Linked DNA regions of Homo sapiens: region 2 is linked to region 1. The links come from fine-mapping of genetic effects on gene expression. A gene starts in region 1. The other region holds a variant in brackets. All regions are shown on one strand. Distances are from middle to middle.

Region 1 (8,347 bases):
TGTGGAACACCAGCAAGGTAGATAGCATCACCATTACCCCTTTGCAGCTGAGGAAACCAAGAAAGCATGACTATACAACTCACCCAAGGTCAGCCCATTCATCTGAGTCTGTTTCCCCAGGTAGCAGCACTGCACTTCCTGGAAGTAGCATTACACACAGTATCACACTCTGTTACTGGGCTCACTGGATTTTCCATGACCTATGCTAATGCCAAGCTGATACTCTGAAGAATATTTTCTTGTTTATAGGTGAGAAACTTATAGGAGTGGAGTAGGGAGGCAGAGACAGAAGTGTTGAGATAAGATTTATCTCTAAAATCTGAGCTTATATATTCCACATAAAGAAATGTCATTTCTAAGGCTACTTGTTTTGCTAATATTTAATTGGTTTGTGGAATGTGCCAAAGTGCCATACTCCCTTTTTTCCTCAAGTGAAGTAATTACCTTGGGTTCTCATTTTGAAAACGTAATGTTTCTTCCATAAGCTCATAAGCAAGTTCTCATTTTTCTCCTTCTACCTTGGAGCCATTAATGTTCCAAAAAGAAATGACTTTGTTCAAAATAGCCAGAAACAAGTGCTCCTAATATTTTTTCATTCAAATTAATTTTAAATTACAAAAGTTAAAGAGCTTGTAGCAGTCTGGGTCAGCTTTCAAGAAAAAGTCATCAGGTTTTGTACAGTATGTCTAGTTCTTTAGTTCAATTCAGCTTCATCCTGCCTCACAAAAATAATAACTTTGGATAATGCTGGAATAACAATGTCAAGCTTTCACAATGGGTCTTGATGGTAAACTCAGGTTTCTTGTGAGTGTGACATCATAACAGCATCTACACTTACGGGCAATTTTAAAACCAAGAGACCAAAATCACAGGCATGAATCATAGCATCCTCCCTTATTTCTAAGATGTATACATGAAGATGAGATAAATAGCATTTTGTAAAAGGATAATTGGCTGGTAGTAATTCTCCTAAGTGAAGGAAAGAATGAGTCTTTAGATACCTAGTCTGTTACATTGTCCCACCCCTTTACTAATTAAATGCTAACCTCATGATTCGAATGGGAGAAAACCTGAAGCTGACTGAAGACTTTCTCATCTATCCTTTAGCACCACAGTATCAAAGGTGTTTCATATTTATTCTGTGAGCACATTCCCTGTTATAGCCTTTTAATTACCTATCACTCTAAAGATTGTAAATTAACAGGAGAAATGTTGGCTTCAAAGGTGATATTTAAAACCAATTGCCTCAGTGAAGATCCTGTGTAGGTAGTGGTTATTCAACTACAAAGGAGGTCACCAAAAAGCTCTATTTTATCTCTAACTCAAAGGACCATCTTTAGTTTATAGTTGCTAACATCTAAAAATCACTTCTTTAACATACAAAAATTCCTGAAACTCTCTCCTTTCTTGTTATGTTGGTTAATTCAGTAAACCAGTGGAAGTAATAAACATAGATGCTTTTCTTCTTTCCATTTTGCCAATAGTGAGATTTAAGACATAGCAAAGTGTCTGCTTTTAGACTGACTTGCTTCAAGGTCTCCAGATGGCTGCCACAGTTCTAGATATCCCCATGCAGATGACCATGCCCCAAAGAAAACTTTAAAATCACTTTATTTTTTGCAATTATCTTCATGTATCATTTTCTAGTTTCACCCTAAAATGTTCTCCTATCTCGCTTTGCGTGGGTAGAGCTGACTTTCACTAGGGCATGTCTGCATTGTCCTGAGCAGCAGTGGAGAGTGATTGGGCGAGAACACAAAGTTCTGCCTCTCCCTAGAGACTAGCTTCTCAGATTCTATAGAATGCCTGCCTGGGGCTCATGTGAGCAACAGGGTCCATGTTCTGGTTTAACCTTTGCTGCTTGACTTCTTTTGATATAATGTTTATTTCCAAAGTGCAGGTGCCTCCACTGTCATCAGTTCACCAACAAGAGCTGACCTATAGATGACCAGAAGGGCTCGCTTCAGCAAAAGCAAAAAAGAAACCCTTTTTTTTTTTTTTTTTGGCCAAATTTAAGGCTAGCCATCTATGTTACAAATCATGCTGCAAAAAGTAAAAAATTTAAAGCTCAGATTGGATCAACATTAAGGAGAGGTAAAGATGGGTGGGTTTCCTGGTCTTTTCAAAATAAATGTGACTTTTAAAAGGATGAAAAAAATGTTTTATGCTCCAGTATATTTGACTCACTGACCTTGACCTTAAGAAATCTGATAACAATCCTAATGCCCTAGAACAATGGAACTTTAAAATTAAATGGAAAAGCATGCACAGCAGCAATGGCAGCCCATAAAGCCCCCAGCATAAATGCTGCATAACTGGAGTAATGGGGAGTTTGAGTGAAAGGCAGTGGAAAGTTACAAGAAATTCAGAAATTATTAAAAGAGAGAGCCTTTATTCTAGGTCTTTTTATCAGTATCTGTTTACAAAAAGGCAAAACTATCCACAGTTATTTATCTATTTCCCCAATTTATGAAGCTTTGACACATGACAGTCACTTTACACCATGTAATCCTCATAAAGAGAGCATTGTTGTCCACTATCTAACATTTTTTTTCTTAATGGAGACTCTTGAGATGGTAAACAGCTTACTCAGATTATACAACAAATCCATTTTTACTTAACAGACAGAAACTCAGATCCAAAAGTATTCTCTTCCTCAGGTCTCTTAACTACCTCATTTGATGAGAATACACAAGTGATCACTCAGAAATTTAGTCAAGAATTTTAAGGTCACTTAATTATTTTAAGATTTGATTGAAAACTTGGCCTATTGCTTAAATCCTCTAGTGGACTTCCTCATTGCATCAGGTCAATTGAGTCAATCTTCAGATAGCTTCACACTTTTTTTTTTTTTTTTTGAGACGGAGTCTCGTTCTGTTGTCCAGGCTAGAGTGCCGTGGCATGATCTCGACTCACTGCAACCTTCGCCTCCTGGGTGCAAGCTATTCTCCTGCCTCAGCCTCCCAAGTAGCTGGGATTACAGGCACCCGCCACCACACCCAGCTAATTTTGTATTTTTAGTAGAGACAGGGTTTCACCATGTTGTCCAGGCTGGTCTCGAACTCCTGACCTCAGGTGATCCACCCGCCTCGGCCTCCCAAAGTGCTGGGATTACAGGCGTGAGCCACTGCAGCCAGCCACCTTCATTTTTCAAAATGATGAATGTGTTATAATAGAAACTTCTAGTCTTCTACGGTACCCACCATAGAGAAAGTTGCCTTATATAAATTTAAAACAAAAAAAGCATGTGTTACTGCAGCAAGATTTCCAATAGAGAGCGAAAACCTATTTGACATTAATCAATCACTTTTGAATCCTTGCCACAGCAAGTAAAATGTGAGGACAAAGGAACACAGACTGGGTCATGATTCATTAGTACTTAACTTAGATCAAGCTAAAGCAGACAAGAGGAGATAAATTTCTTATCAAACAGCTTTAGTGATGATGGAAGATTTAGACTCTATTTCAGCATTTTGCTTATTGAATTCCACATAGACAAATTTATCATTTTGAATCTCCCCAGTAAATTTTCTCTGCATTCAAATAAATGATAAGCTATGGGCGAAGAAATTCTCTCCTTTAATACTTTAATACCATATACAAATCTAGTCATCACATTAGTTGAATCCTAGAACCTCCTTCCTTTTGTGAATTAAAAACTTACAGCTCTTGGAAGACCAAGATATCAATACTGAGAATAATCAAAGGGTACATGTATAAGGATGGTGATGGGAGGTTAATCTCAACAGATACAGAAGTAAACAAAGCTTGGCTTAATAAAGCAAATGGTTATTTTAAGCAACATCAAATTTTTATAACGAGATCAGTAATGGAGAATATATAATGAAGCTTTTCAATAGAGTTCAAGGATTGAAACGAAGTGTGAAAAACACGACATTTTAGAAGCACACATCTATACAACACTGAAATTAAGATTAGGGATAGTAAGTGACATGGCAGGAATTTCTTTCCATTTTTTTTTAATTTCATAATTTTTTTTAATTTCACAGATTTTTTTGTTTAATTTCACAAGGATTAGTACATGAGCCATTATTTATCTGGCTTAGTAAAAAGTTTTCTGCCTATCTTAGCTAAGAGAAATGGAAGGCAACACTTTGATATGAGTGAATATAGCAATAATCAAGAAATTCCTATTCTATGAGATGTGGCAATGGTCGCAAATAAAATGTGACTAGTGTCCATGGGCAAGGTGAATAATTAATATATTCATTCACTGGGGACCTACATATAGTTCCCAATGAATGGGAACTTTTGGTATTAAAAAATTTGTATAAAGGTAATTTTTTGGTATAAAAGAAAATTATTAGCTTAAATTTCATCCTGTGCTCTCAGGAAAAAGAAAAATACTATTGGTCGTTTTTTAGAGAATGATACTAGGTATCAGCTAGCGTACTCAAGACCTGTGATATATACACATCATGTAAAATTTAAACACACCAACACTTACTAACATACAGCAATAGCACCAATATATTGAATAGACTTTAAACAGATTATTTTCATTAATTAAAGAAAATACCTGATATACCTCACACAGCTACCTGCAAAATGCTGCAAACACAGCAGAAGCTCAATAGAGATATTAATTAATCCAGTCAGCTAATGGTGATACCGTAACTACAAAAGCTGTATCCAAGATGATAGAGTTCTTAACTGGCCTCTCTGTCTTCAGTCTCACTGAAGTCCCACCCTCTAGACTGCAAAATAATCTTTCCAAAGATGAAATTTCTACTATGACACTCTATTTTTTAAATATTTAGTGGCCCGCAAAATAAGTTCCAACTTCCTTAGCATGTCTTCCTCACACGGCCCTTCATGATTTGGCTGTTATGTATCTAGACACCCTTAGATCCTGATACTTCCACACTTATTCCCTACACTCCCAGAATGCTAGACAACCAGCAATTCCTTGAGTATACCTTGTAGTCCCGTTTCATGCCTTGATCTCTATAGCAGCCATCATTGATACCCACCCATATCCGTTCAGCACTCACCATTTCTGTGAACCTCTAACTGCTGGCTTTCACCTGCGACTCTTTGCCTGAGGGCTTTCTCAGGTGGCCAGAGCTAATGGGGCCCACACCTGTGGAAAATCTAAAATAGAGAAGAATTAACATCCATAGGGAGCAGCTCTCAACCACAGAATGACTGGAACTGGTGAGCAGCTCCAAGTCATAGCCACACTGTTTCCCAGGGTGCTCCCAAAGAACTGAGAGACCCAGTTGCTCACAGAAGTAATCTGCCAGAAAAGACACTCTTTACAGTCATTCTTCCCTTCCTTATCTCACTTCCCACTCCCCTACTAGTGTTTCCTCCCAAATAAACTGCTGTACTCAACTCTTTGCCTCAGAGTGTGCTTCTGAGGAGAATCTTGTCCAAGATAGTCCCTTTACAAGTATCGTTCCCACTTCTGGAGAATATTTTTCCTTTCCTTCAAACCTACTTGGGAATTCTTCACCATCCTTTAAAGCAAACCTTCTTAAAATTTAATGTCATACAAATGACCAGAGATCTTATTAAAATAGAGATCCTGATTTGGTATGTCCTGAATGGGATCTGAGATTCTGAAGTTCTAACAGGCTTCTGGAAAAGGCGAATACCCCCAGTTTGAAAACCACACTTTGTGAGTAGCAAATATTTAAGACACAGTTCAAAAACCTATTTCTTTGGAAGTCTTCCCTAAAACTCCTTCATTCCTATCCTGATGATTAATTTTTCTTTTTCCCCTATGTTTATTACTGTGTGTGGTAATTCTTTGTTTACAGGTCTATCTCCAATGAGTTTGTTCCTTTAAGATGAGGATTGTCTTTTTCTTATCCATGTATCCACAATAACTAGCATATAGCCTGACATATTACCCATACCTAAGAAATGTTTGTGAACTGGTAAAATTAATGAACAAATTATAATTTTATGGCATACTTCACCAAAAATTTTATATGTACACATATTGTGTTCTGACACATTCAACTAAGTCAACTGTGTTATAAATATAAATTGTATAAATTCTTCAGATTTCTGGTCTATTTTTACATTAAATCATAGACTTCAGGACTTCTGAACAATGCAGATTATAGAATTTCTGCTGTAGAGATATTTAATAGGCTATGTCAACATCAGCTTAAAATGGTTTAGTTAACTGTTATCTAAAGGTCAGGAAAAGTATCAATCACTAGAATCCCTTCTTTGTATTCATATTTAAAATCTGTGGATGAATGTTGTGCAAGTTAGTCATTCATTGGGTTTAGGGAAGTGGAGAAGGTGGTGGCAGTGTGTGTGTGTGTGTGTGTGTGTGTAGGCACTTGCATGCATTTTGGGGGTGGGAGATATATTAGAGCAGAAATCACAAGAACATCCTAGGAGGAAGTACTTTATGGACTGCTCTCTTACCTGCCACAAATTGCTTGCAAATGCCATTGCCCTCAGAATCTCAGGATTGAACTTCTTGTTTATTTTAGTTGCTTCCTTCTTAAGAAAAATTCAATGTAAGGTGGTGAAACTAAATCTATCAAGGGAATAGCTATATGGTATCCTTAGATGGACAACTAATGGAAATAGCATCTGATCTTTCTACTTTAAGATGCAAGAACAGAAACTAGGGTGTTTTGAGCATATCAAGTTCTGAACTAGATAATAGCACTGATAATGGACTAAAGAAAAGTGATATGTGGAGCCCACAGTGTTGACTGGAAGTCAGCTCCTATCTCATTCCAACCTCATTCTCTTACCATTAGAAATCAACCCTGAGCATGTTAGAAAGATGTTCTCATGACAAGGAAAATGGCAACTGAAAGCCCTTGACATATTAAGATTTGACTAGATCAGAACTTGAATAACATTTTGTACTTTATTTGCATCTACCACATTGTATTTTAATTCTTACTGTCTAGGTCCATGTTTCCAATTAGGTTAGTCAAGTCCTTGAGAGCAGGAATCAATTTAATTCAGTTTTTTATTCCTGGAATATCGCTTGACCTATTGCAGATGTTCAGTTATCACTGTTGAGTTAATGAATCAATGAATGAATTGATCAATGAATAAATTATAGCCACATCATAATTGTTAAAAGAACACTAAACAGTGGATTAAAGCTTTGGGAGTCCAGAGAGCTAGGGAGGAGTCACAGTTTCTCAAAGATTTTACTAGTTCGAAAGGGTGTATTTAACATTAAAACAACAAAGAGATATACTTAGAACCCACTCTAAACAAAGACTAATAATAACAAGGACTGACGAGAATGTAAGAACTGGAACTCTCATGCATTGCTGGTGGGAATGTGAAATGCTACGTTTACTCAAAAATTATTATTTACTATATAACCCAGTAATTTCACTCTTAGATCTATACTCAAGAAAAATGAGAATCTGTGTCCAGACAAAGACTTGTGCATGAATGTTCGTAACAGCATCATTCATAATAGCCAAAATTTGGAGACTACTGAAATGTCTATCAACTTGTTAATGGAGAAGCAAAATATGGTATGTCCATATGAACGGATATATTCAACTATAAAAAGAACAGACTTACAGATAGATGCTACATTTATAAATTTTACCAAATGTAAATTTTTCCAACAGGACTGTTGCTACTCATTATCTCTTTTGTTATCCTGAGAATTTCCATAGAATGCTTTAACTATCCATTGAACACTTCCCACAAAATCTTGTTATTGCTCATAGTTCTAGTTTTTCCCTTTTAAAAAGGGGTATTTATATTTTTATGATTAATGTTAAAGTAAATTTACCAATACATGTTCTAAAACTGTAGTTCAACTCAGAAATTCTTAGACCCTCACCTTCATCCTGAGTTCACTGTCTTATTGCTAAAGCACAAACTTTAATAGTTCTTTTACTTCAGTTATGTGGACAATAAATTGTATTATTCTTTTTGTGTGCGAAAAATGCTTCTATTTTGCCATTACATTTGAATAACAGTGTTGGTGAGGATGTGGAGAAATTGGAACTTTTGTGCACTGTTGATGGGAAAGTAAAATGATATAGCCACTATGGAAAACAGTATGGCAGTTTCTCAGAAAATTAAAAATAAAATTACCATATGATCCAGCAATTCTGTTTCTGGGTGTATAACTAAAATAATTTAAAGTAGTGTCTAATAGAGATGTTTGTACAAATATGCTCATAGAAGCATTAATCACATTAGTCAAAAGGTAAAAATAACCCAAGTGCCCAATTGATGAGAAAATGGATAAACAAAAGGTAGTCTATACATCTACATATACAATGAAATATTATTCAGCCTTAAAAAAATGAAATTATAATGCATGCTACATACGTATAAACCTTGAGGAGACTGTGCTAAGTGAAAT
Region 2 (8,347 bases), 120 kb after region 1:
TGAGGAAATTTGTTGCCAGTACATCTGCCTTGCAAAAAATGTTAAGTTCTTCAGAGGGAAGGAAAATGATATGTCAGAAACTCAGATCTACATATAGAATAGAAGAGCATTGAGGAAGGAATAAGTAATGTAAAATAAACATGTTATTTTCTTAGTCTAACAAATGTTTGTTCAAAATAACAATAGCAACAATGTGTCTAATTATGTACACTTTTTATATATATACTTATGCATGCTAATATATGTGAACTGAATGACTACAATGAATCTGGGAATCAAATGGAGGAATTAGGATTATTTTGTTACTATAAAGTACTCACACTATCTATAAAGCACTATGGTGTTATTTGAAAGTGGATGTGGATTAGTTGTCAATGTATATTGAAACTGGATGTGGATTTGTTGTCAATGTATATGGAAAACTCTAGGGCAACCACTAAAAACAAAGTTTAAAAAGAAGTATTAACTAATATGCTAAGGAAGGAGAGAAAATGAAGTCATATAAAATTCTCAATTAAAACTATAGAAGGCAGAAAAAGAATGGAAGGCAAAGAAGGAACAAATAACAAGGGCAACAAATAGAAAACAATAACAGATATGTAGATATTAATCCAACTATATCAATAATCACTTTAACATCAATGGTTTAAGAGACAGATGTTGTCAGAGTGGACAAAAAAAAAAAAGGCCCAACTCTATGTTGTCTGGAAGAAACCCACTTTGAATATAAAGACACATATAGATTAAAAGTAAGAGGATGAAGAAAAATATACATGTAACACTAATCAAAAGAAATCAGGAGTGGCTGTATTAATTTAAGACAGAGCAAACTTCAAAGCAAGGACAATTATCATGGATAAAGAGCAGTACACAATGATCAAGGGGTCATTCTGCAAGAAAATATAACAATCTTTAATAGGTATGTGCCTAACAACACAGCATCAAACCACATGAGGCAAAAAATGATGAAAATGCAAGGAAAGGAAAAATAAATGAATCCACTATTATAGTTGGAAACTTCAACATTCCTCTATTTGAAGTGGACAGATCCAGCAGACAAAAAAATTATTAAGGACATAGTAGAACTCAACACCATCATCAATTAACTGATGTAATCAACATTTATAGACGACTTCATTTAACAATAGCAAAATACACATTCCTTTGAAGCTCACATGAAACATACACAAATATAAAGCACATTCTGCACCAGGAAACATATCTTAACAAATGTAAAGGAACAGAAATCATGAAATGTCTGCTCTCAGACCACGGTAAAATTAAATTAGAAATCAATAACAGAAAGATAACAGGAAAATAAAAAATGTGTGGAAATTAACATACTCCTCTTTTATTTATTTATTTATTATTTATTTACTTTTGAGACAGGATCTCACTCAGTGGCCCAGGCTGGAGTGCAGTGGTGCAATCATGGCTCATTGCAGCCTTGACCTTCTGGGCTCAGGCAATTCTCTCACCTCAGCCTCCCAAGTAGTTGGAACTACTGGTGCACACCACCATGCCCAGCCAATTTTTTTGTGTTTTTTGTACAGACAGGGTTTTACCATGTTGCCTAGGCTGGTCCTGAACTCCTGAGTTCAAGCAATCCTTCTGCCTTGGCCTACCAAATTGCTGGGATTACAGGTGTGTGCTACTATGCCTGAGCTACCATAGTTTTTAATAACACATAGGTCACAGATGAAATCTCAAGAAAAATCTAAAAACATTTGGAACTAAATAAAAATGAAAACACAACAAAATTTTTAAGATGCAATGAAAGTAGTGCATAGAGGGAAGTTTATAGCATTCAATGCATATAGTAAAAAGCAAGAAAAATAGAAAATAAATAATCTAAGTTTTCACCCTATGAAATTAGGAAAAGAAGAGCAAATTAGATCTAAAGTGGGAGAAAATAAACAATAAGAATGAGAGCAGAAATCAATGAACTGAAAAGAGGAAATCCATAAAGAAGCTCAACAAAACCAAAAGCTAGTTCTTTGAAAAGATCAATAAGATCAATATGACTCTTGCCAGGTTAACTAAGAAACAAAAAGAGAGAACACAAATTACTAATATCAGAAATAAAAGAGGGGACATGACAACAGATCCTCTGGACATTAAAAGGATAATAAGGGAATTCTTTTTCTTTTTTTTTTTTCTGAGTCTCGCTCTGTCACCCAGGCTGGAGTGCAGTGGCGTGATCTTGGCTCACTGTAACCTCCACCTCTCGAGTTCACGCCAGTCTCCTGCCTCAGCCTCCCGAGTAGCTGGGACTACAGGCGCCCGCCACCATGCCTGGCTAATTTTTTGTATTTTTAGTGGAGACAGGGTTTCACCATGTTGGCCAGGATGGTCTCAATCTCCTGACCTCGTGATCCGCCCACCTCAGCTTCCCAAAGTGCTGGGATTACAGGCGTGAGCCAACGCGCCTGGCAATAATAAGGGAATTCTACGAACAACTGTATGCTCATAAATTTGTAATCTAGATTGAGCCAATGAACCAATTCCTTAAAAGACACAATTTGACAAAACTCACTCAAGAAAAAGACGATCTGAATAGACTTTTATTTATTAAAGAAATTGAACCAATAATTAATAACCTTCCAGAGCAAAAAGACCAAGCCCTGATTAGTTCACTGGTGAATTCTGTGGAATATTAAGGAAAAAAATTGTATGAATTCTCTACAATCTCTTTCAGAGGATTGAAGCAAAAATAATATTTCTTAACTTGTTCTATGAGACCAGCATTACCCTAACACCAAAACCAGACAACAACATTATAAAAGAAAACCACAGGCCAATATATCTGGTGAACATGGATGCAAAAATCCTCAATAAAATACTAACAAACTGAATTTAAGAACACATCAAAAAGATTATACTCCACAACCAAGTGGGATTTATCCCTAAGGTGCAAGTTTGGTTGAACATACACAAATTAATCAAAGTGATACATTGCATTAACATAATGAAACATAAAAAACCCCTTGATTATCTTTATAGGTATAGAAAGCATTTGACAAAGTTGAACACCCATATGTAACAAAAACTCTAAATAAAATATATATGGAAGGAAACTTCTGCAACACAATAAAGGCTATTTATGAAAAGGCCAGAGATGTCATAATCAGTGAGGAAAAACTTAAAAGCTTTTCCTCCAAGATCTGGTAAAAGGCAAGGATGCCTACTATTACCACTTCTAGTCAACATAGTAATGGATTGCAAGAGCAATCAGTGTAGAAAGATAATCCAAATCAGAAAGGAAGAAGTAAAATTACCCATTTGCAAATGATCTTATAC[G/A]TAGAAAATGCTAAAGACTCTACAAAAAAAATAAAAATCTATAGAAACTAATAAACAAATTCAGTAAAGTGGCAAAATGCAAAATCAATATACAAAAATTAGTTGCTTTTCTTTACACTAATAATGATCTAATCAAAAAAGAAATCCAGAAAACAATCCCACTTAAAATACATCAAAAATAAAATGTTTCAAGATAAATTAAATCAAAGAAGTGAAATATCTGTACACTGAAAACTATAAAACCTTGATAAAAGAAATTAAGGAAGGCACAAGTAAATGGAAATATATCCCAGGTTTATGGATTAGAAGAATGAATCTTGTTAAAATGTCCATATAACCCAAAGCAATATACAAATAAAACATAATCTCTATCAAAATTCCAATGGTATTTTTTCACAAAAATAGAAAAAAATTCTAAAATTCATATGAACTGTAAAATACCTTTTTTAGTCAAAATAATCTTGAGAAAGAACTAAGTTAGAATCATTACACTTTCTCATTTCAAATTATATAACAAAGCTTTAAGTAAGCAAAACAATATAGAAACAGACACTTAGATCAATGAAACAGAAAAGAGAGCTAAAAAAACCCAACCATATGGGTTGATGTATCAGCAAATCACCAAGGCACACGTTTACCAAGGTAACACAAACCTGCACATCCTGCACATCTACCCCAGAACTTAAAAGTTGAAGGATAAATATTTTTTTTAATGGGCAAAAATCTGAATGGACATTTCTCTAAAGAAGGCCAAAGGGTATATAAAAAAGTCATCAACATCACTAATCATCAGGGAAATGCAAATCAAAACCACAATGAGATATCATCTCTTACCTATTAGAATGGCAATTATCAAAAAAAAAAAAAAAAAAGAATGGCGATTATCAAAAAGTCAAATGATAAGTATTGGTAAGGATGTGAACAAAGGCACACCTTTGTAAACTGGATGGTGAGAATGTGAATTGGCACAGACATTATGGAAAACAGTATGGAATTTTTTCAAAAAACTAAAAATAGAACTACTCCCATGATCCAGCAATCCCTGTTCTGGGTATATATCCAAAGAAATTGAAACTGGGATCTGAAAGAGACATCTGCACTCCCATGTTCATTGCAGCATTATTCACAGTAGCCAAGGTATGGAAACAACCTAAGTGTCCTTCAATGGATGAATGAATAAAGAAAAAGTGACTATTTTTCAGACATAAAAAAGAATGAAATCCCATCATGTGCAGCAACGTGGATGAAACTGGAAGACATTATGCTAAGTGAAATAAATCAGGCACAGAGAGACAAAAAACAAAACAAAACATATATGGTTAGCTAATTTTCAACAAGGGCACCACACATACACGATGGGGAAAGGATAATCTTTCAAAGAATGATGTTGGCTACAGTGGATAGCCACATGCAAAAGAATGAATTTGAACCTTTATTTTATACCATACACAAAAAATTAACTCAAAATGAATTTAAAACTTAAACATAAGACCGAAAACTGTAAGATTTCCAGAAGAAAGCATAGGAATAAAGCTTCCAGACATTGGTCCAGTGATGATTTTTTAGATATCACAAAAAACCCTCAGGCCACAGAAGCAAAAATAAATAAGTGGGGCTATGTCAAACTAAAAATCTTCTGCTCATCAAAGAAAAAAATCGACAAAATGAAAAGGCAACCTACATATTTGAAGAAAATATTTACAAACCATATAACCAGTAAAAGAATAATATCCAGGATAATATAAGGACCTCATACAACTCAACAAAAAATAAAAATAAATAATCCAATTAAAAAATAGACAAAGAATCTGAATAGAGAGAAGAAATACAAATGGCCCAGAGGTGTATGAGAAGATTCCCATCACCACTAATCATGAAGAAAATGCAAATCAAAACCACACTGAGATACCACCTCACACCTATTAGAATGAATATTATCAAACAGGCAAGAGATAAGTGTTAGAAAGGGTGTAAATATGTAACCAAAAGAAATGAAATTGTCATTCTGTAGAGATATTTGCACTTGCATGTTTATTGGAATATTATTCACAATAGCCAGGATATGGAAACAACCTAAATGTCCATTGATGGGTGAATGGATAAATTGCTGAATGTAATAAAATATAATATAATGTATACACACACAATGGAATATTATTCAAATTAAAAAAAAAGAAGATCCTGCCCTTTGCAACAACATGAGTGAAACTGAAAGACATTATGTTAAGTGACATAAGCCAGACACAGAAAGAAAACTACTGCATGATGTCACTTATATGTGGAAACTAAAAATGCTGAATACATAGAGTAGAGTATAATGGTGGTTATAAGTGGAAGGGGATAGGGAGATGTTGGTCAAAGGGTCCAAAGTTACAGTTATGTTGGATAAATAAGTCTAGAAATCTAATGTAAACTATGATTACTGTAATTAATAAATACTGTATTGTGTAATAAAATTTACCAAAAGAGTAAATTTCAGGTGTTCTTACCACACATATACACACAACAAGGTAATTATGTGAGAAAAATGATGTAATTTGTTTCACTGTAGTAATCATTTTAGTATATATAGGCATATCTTGTTTTATTGTATTTATTGCATGCCTCAGATCCTGCACTTCTTACTAATTAAACGTTTGTGACAACTTTGCTCCGAGCAAGTCTATTGGCACCATTTTTTCTAACAGCATGTGCTAGCTTTGTGTCTCTGTGCCACATTTTGATAACTCTTGCTATGTTTCAAACTTTATTATTACTATGTCTGTTATGGTGATCCATGATCTTTACTGTTACTATCATAATTGTTTGGGGGCACCATAAACCACACCACATGCAATGGTAAACTTCACTCTTGATCTTAGCCAAAAGGCCGAGAAGCAATTGAGATGACAAACTTAATCAATAAATGTGTGACTTCTGACTGCTCTACCAACCAGCTATTTCTCCAACTCTCTACCTCTCCTCATACTTTCATATTCACTGAGACACAAGAATACCGAGATCAGGCCAATTAAAATACCCCTATAATGGCCTCTAAGTGTTCAAGTGGAAGAAAAAGTTGCACATCTCTTACTTTAAAACATAAGCTAAAAATGGGTAAGCCTAGTGAGGAAGGCACTTCAAAAGCTGAGATAGGATGAAAGCCAGGCCTCTTGTGCCAGGTAGTCAAGTAGTGAATGCAAAGGAAAAGGCTTTGAAGAAAACTGAAAGTGGTACTCCCACGAAAAACACAAACGATGAGAAATCTAAATAGCCTTGTTTCTGGTACGGGAAAAATTTTGGTGGTCAGGATAAAAAGATCAAACTAGCCACAACATTTCCTCAAGCCAAGGCCTAATCCAGAGCAAAGCCTTCACTCTCTTCATTTCTACGAATTCTGATAGAGGTGAGGAAGCTGCAGAAGAAATGACTGAGGATAACAGAGGTTGGTTCATAAGGTTTAAGGAAAGAAGCTATCATCATAACATAAAAGTATAAGGTGAAGAAGGAAGTGCTGATATAGAAGCTGTAGAATGTTATCCAAAAGATCTGACTAAGATAATTGATAAAGGTGGCTACACTAAGCATACACTAAACACAGAATTTTTTTTTTTTTTTGAGACAGAGTCTTGCTCTGTCGCCCAGGCTGTAGTGCAGTGGCACGATCTTGGCTCACTGCAACCTCCACCTCCCTGGTTCAAGCAATTCCCCTGCCTCAGCCTCCCAAGTAGCTGGGATTACAGGTGTACACCACCAAACCTGGCTAACTTTTTTGTATTTTTAGTAGAGATGGGGTTCACCATGTTGGCCAGACTGGTCACGAACTCCTGACCTCAGGCAATCCGCCCACCTCAGCCTCCCAAAGTGCTGGGATTATAGGCGTAAGCCACCGTACCCAGCCAACAACAGATTTTTTTAATGTAGACAAAATGGCCTAGTATTGGGAGAAAATTCCATCTAGGACTTTCATAGCTAGAGAGAAGTCAATGACTGGCTTCAAATCTTTAAAGAACAGTCTGAATCTCTTGTTTAGGGCTAATGCATCTGGTGGCTCTAAATTGAAGTCTACATCTTTTATGATTTCAAAAATTCTAGAGCCCTTAAGAATTGCCCTAAGTCTACTCTGCCTATGCTCAATAAATGGAAAACAAAGCCGGATGACAGCACATCTGTTTACAGCATGGTTTACTGGATATTTTAAGCCCACTGTTGAGACCTACTGCTCTGAAAAAAAAAAATGATTCCTTTCAAAATTCCTGCTCATTGGCAATGCATCTGGGCTCTCAAGAGCTCTAACGGAGATGTACATGGAGATTAATTTTGTTTTCATGTCTGCTAACACAACAATTCTGTAGCCCATGGATGAAGGAGTAATTTCTAATTTCAAGTCTTATTATTTAAGAAATACATTTCATGATGCTATAGCTACCAAAGATAATAATTCCTCTGATGAATCTGGACAAAGTAAACTGAAACTTTCTGGAAAGAATTCACCATTCTAAATGCCATTAAAAACATTTGTGATTCATGGTAGAAGGTCAAAATATCCACATTAACAGGGATTTGAAAGAAGTTGATTCCAACCTCTGTGGATGACTTTGATTCAAGACTAGTGCAGGAAGTAACTGCAGACATAATGACAATAACGAGAGAACTAGAATTAGAAATGGAGCCTGGCCAGATGCAGTGGCTCACACCTGTAATCCCAGCACTTTGGGAGGCCTAGGCAAGAGGACTGCTTGAGGGCAAGAGTTCAAGACCATCTTGAGCAACATAGTGAGACCCTATCTCTACAAAAATCAAAAAATGAGGCATGCATAATGGCACATGCCTATGGTGCCAGCTGCTCAGGAGGCTGAGGCAGAAGGATTGTTTGAGCCCAGGAGGCTGAGGCTGCAGTGAGCTGTGTTCATGTAACTGCACTCCAGTCTGGGTGACAGAGTAAGATCTTGTCTCAGAAAAAAAAAAAAAAAAAATGTGACTGAATTGCTACAATCTCATGATTAAACTATAATAGATGTGGAGTTGCTTCTTATGGGTGAGCAAAGAAAGTAGTTTCTTGAGATCA

The links.
Region 2: its variant is fine-mapped to the expression of LINC00534 in whole blood (TOPMed, PIP 0.90).

What each region holds. Positions count from the first base shown.
Region 1 is chr8:90,218,415-90,226,761 of GRCh38, reverse strand. LINC00534 (long intergenic non-protein coding RNA 534) reads right to left here and starts at 5,274. Exons shown (of 4, transcript NR_051989.1): 1 at 5,016-5,274.
Region 2 is chr8:90,100,240-90,108,586 of GRCh38, reverse strand. No RefSeq gene overlaps it. Among named protein-coding and RNA genes, the nearest start is that of CALB1, 22 kb to the right of the region's middle. The variant G/A (reference allele first, on the strand shown) is at 3,301.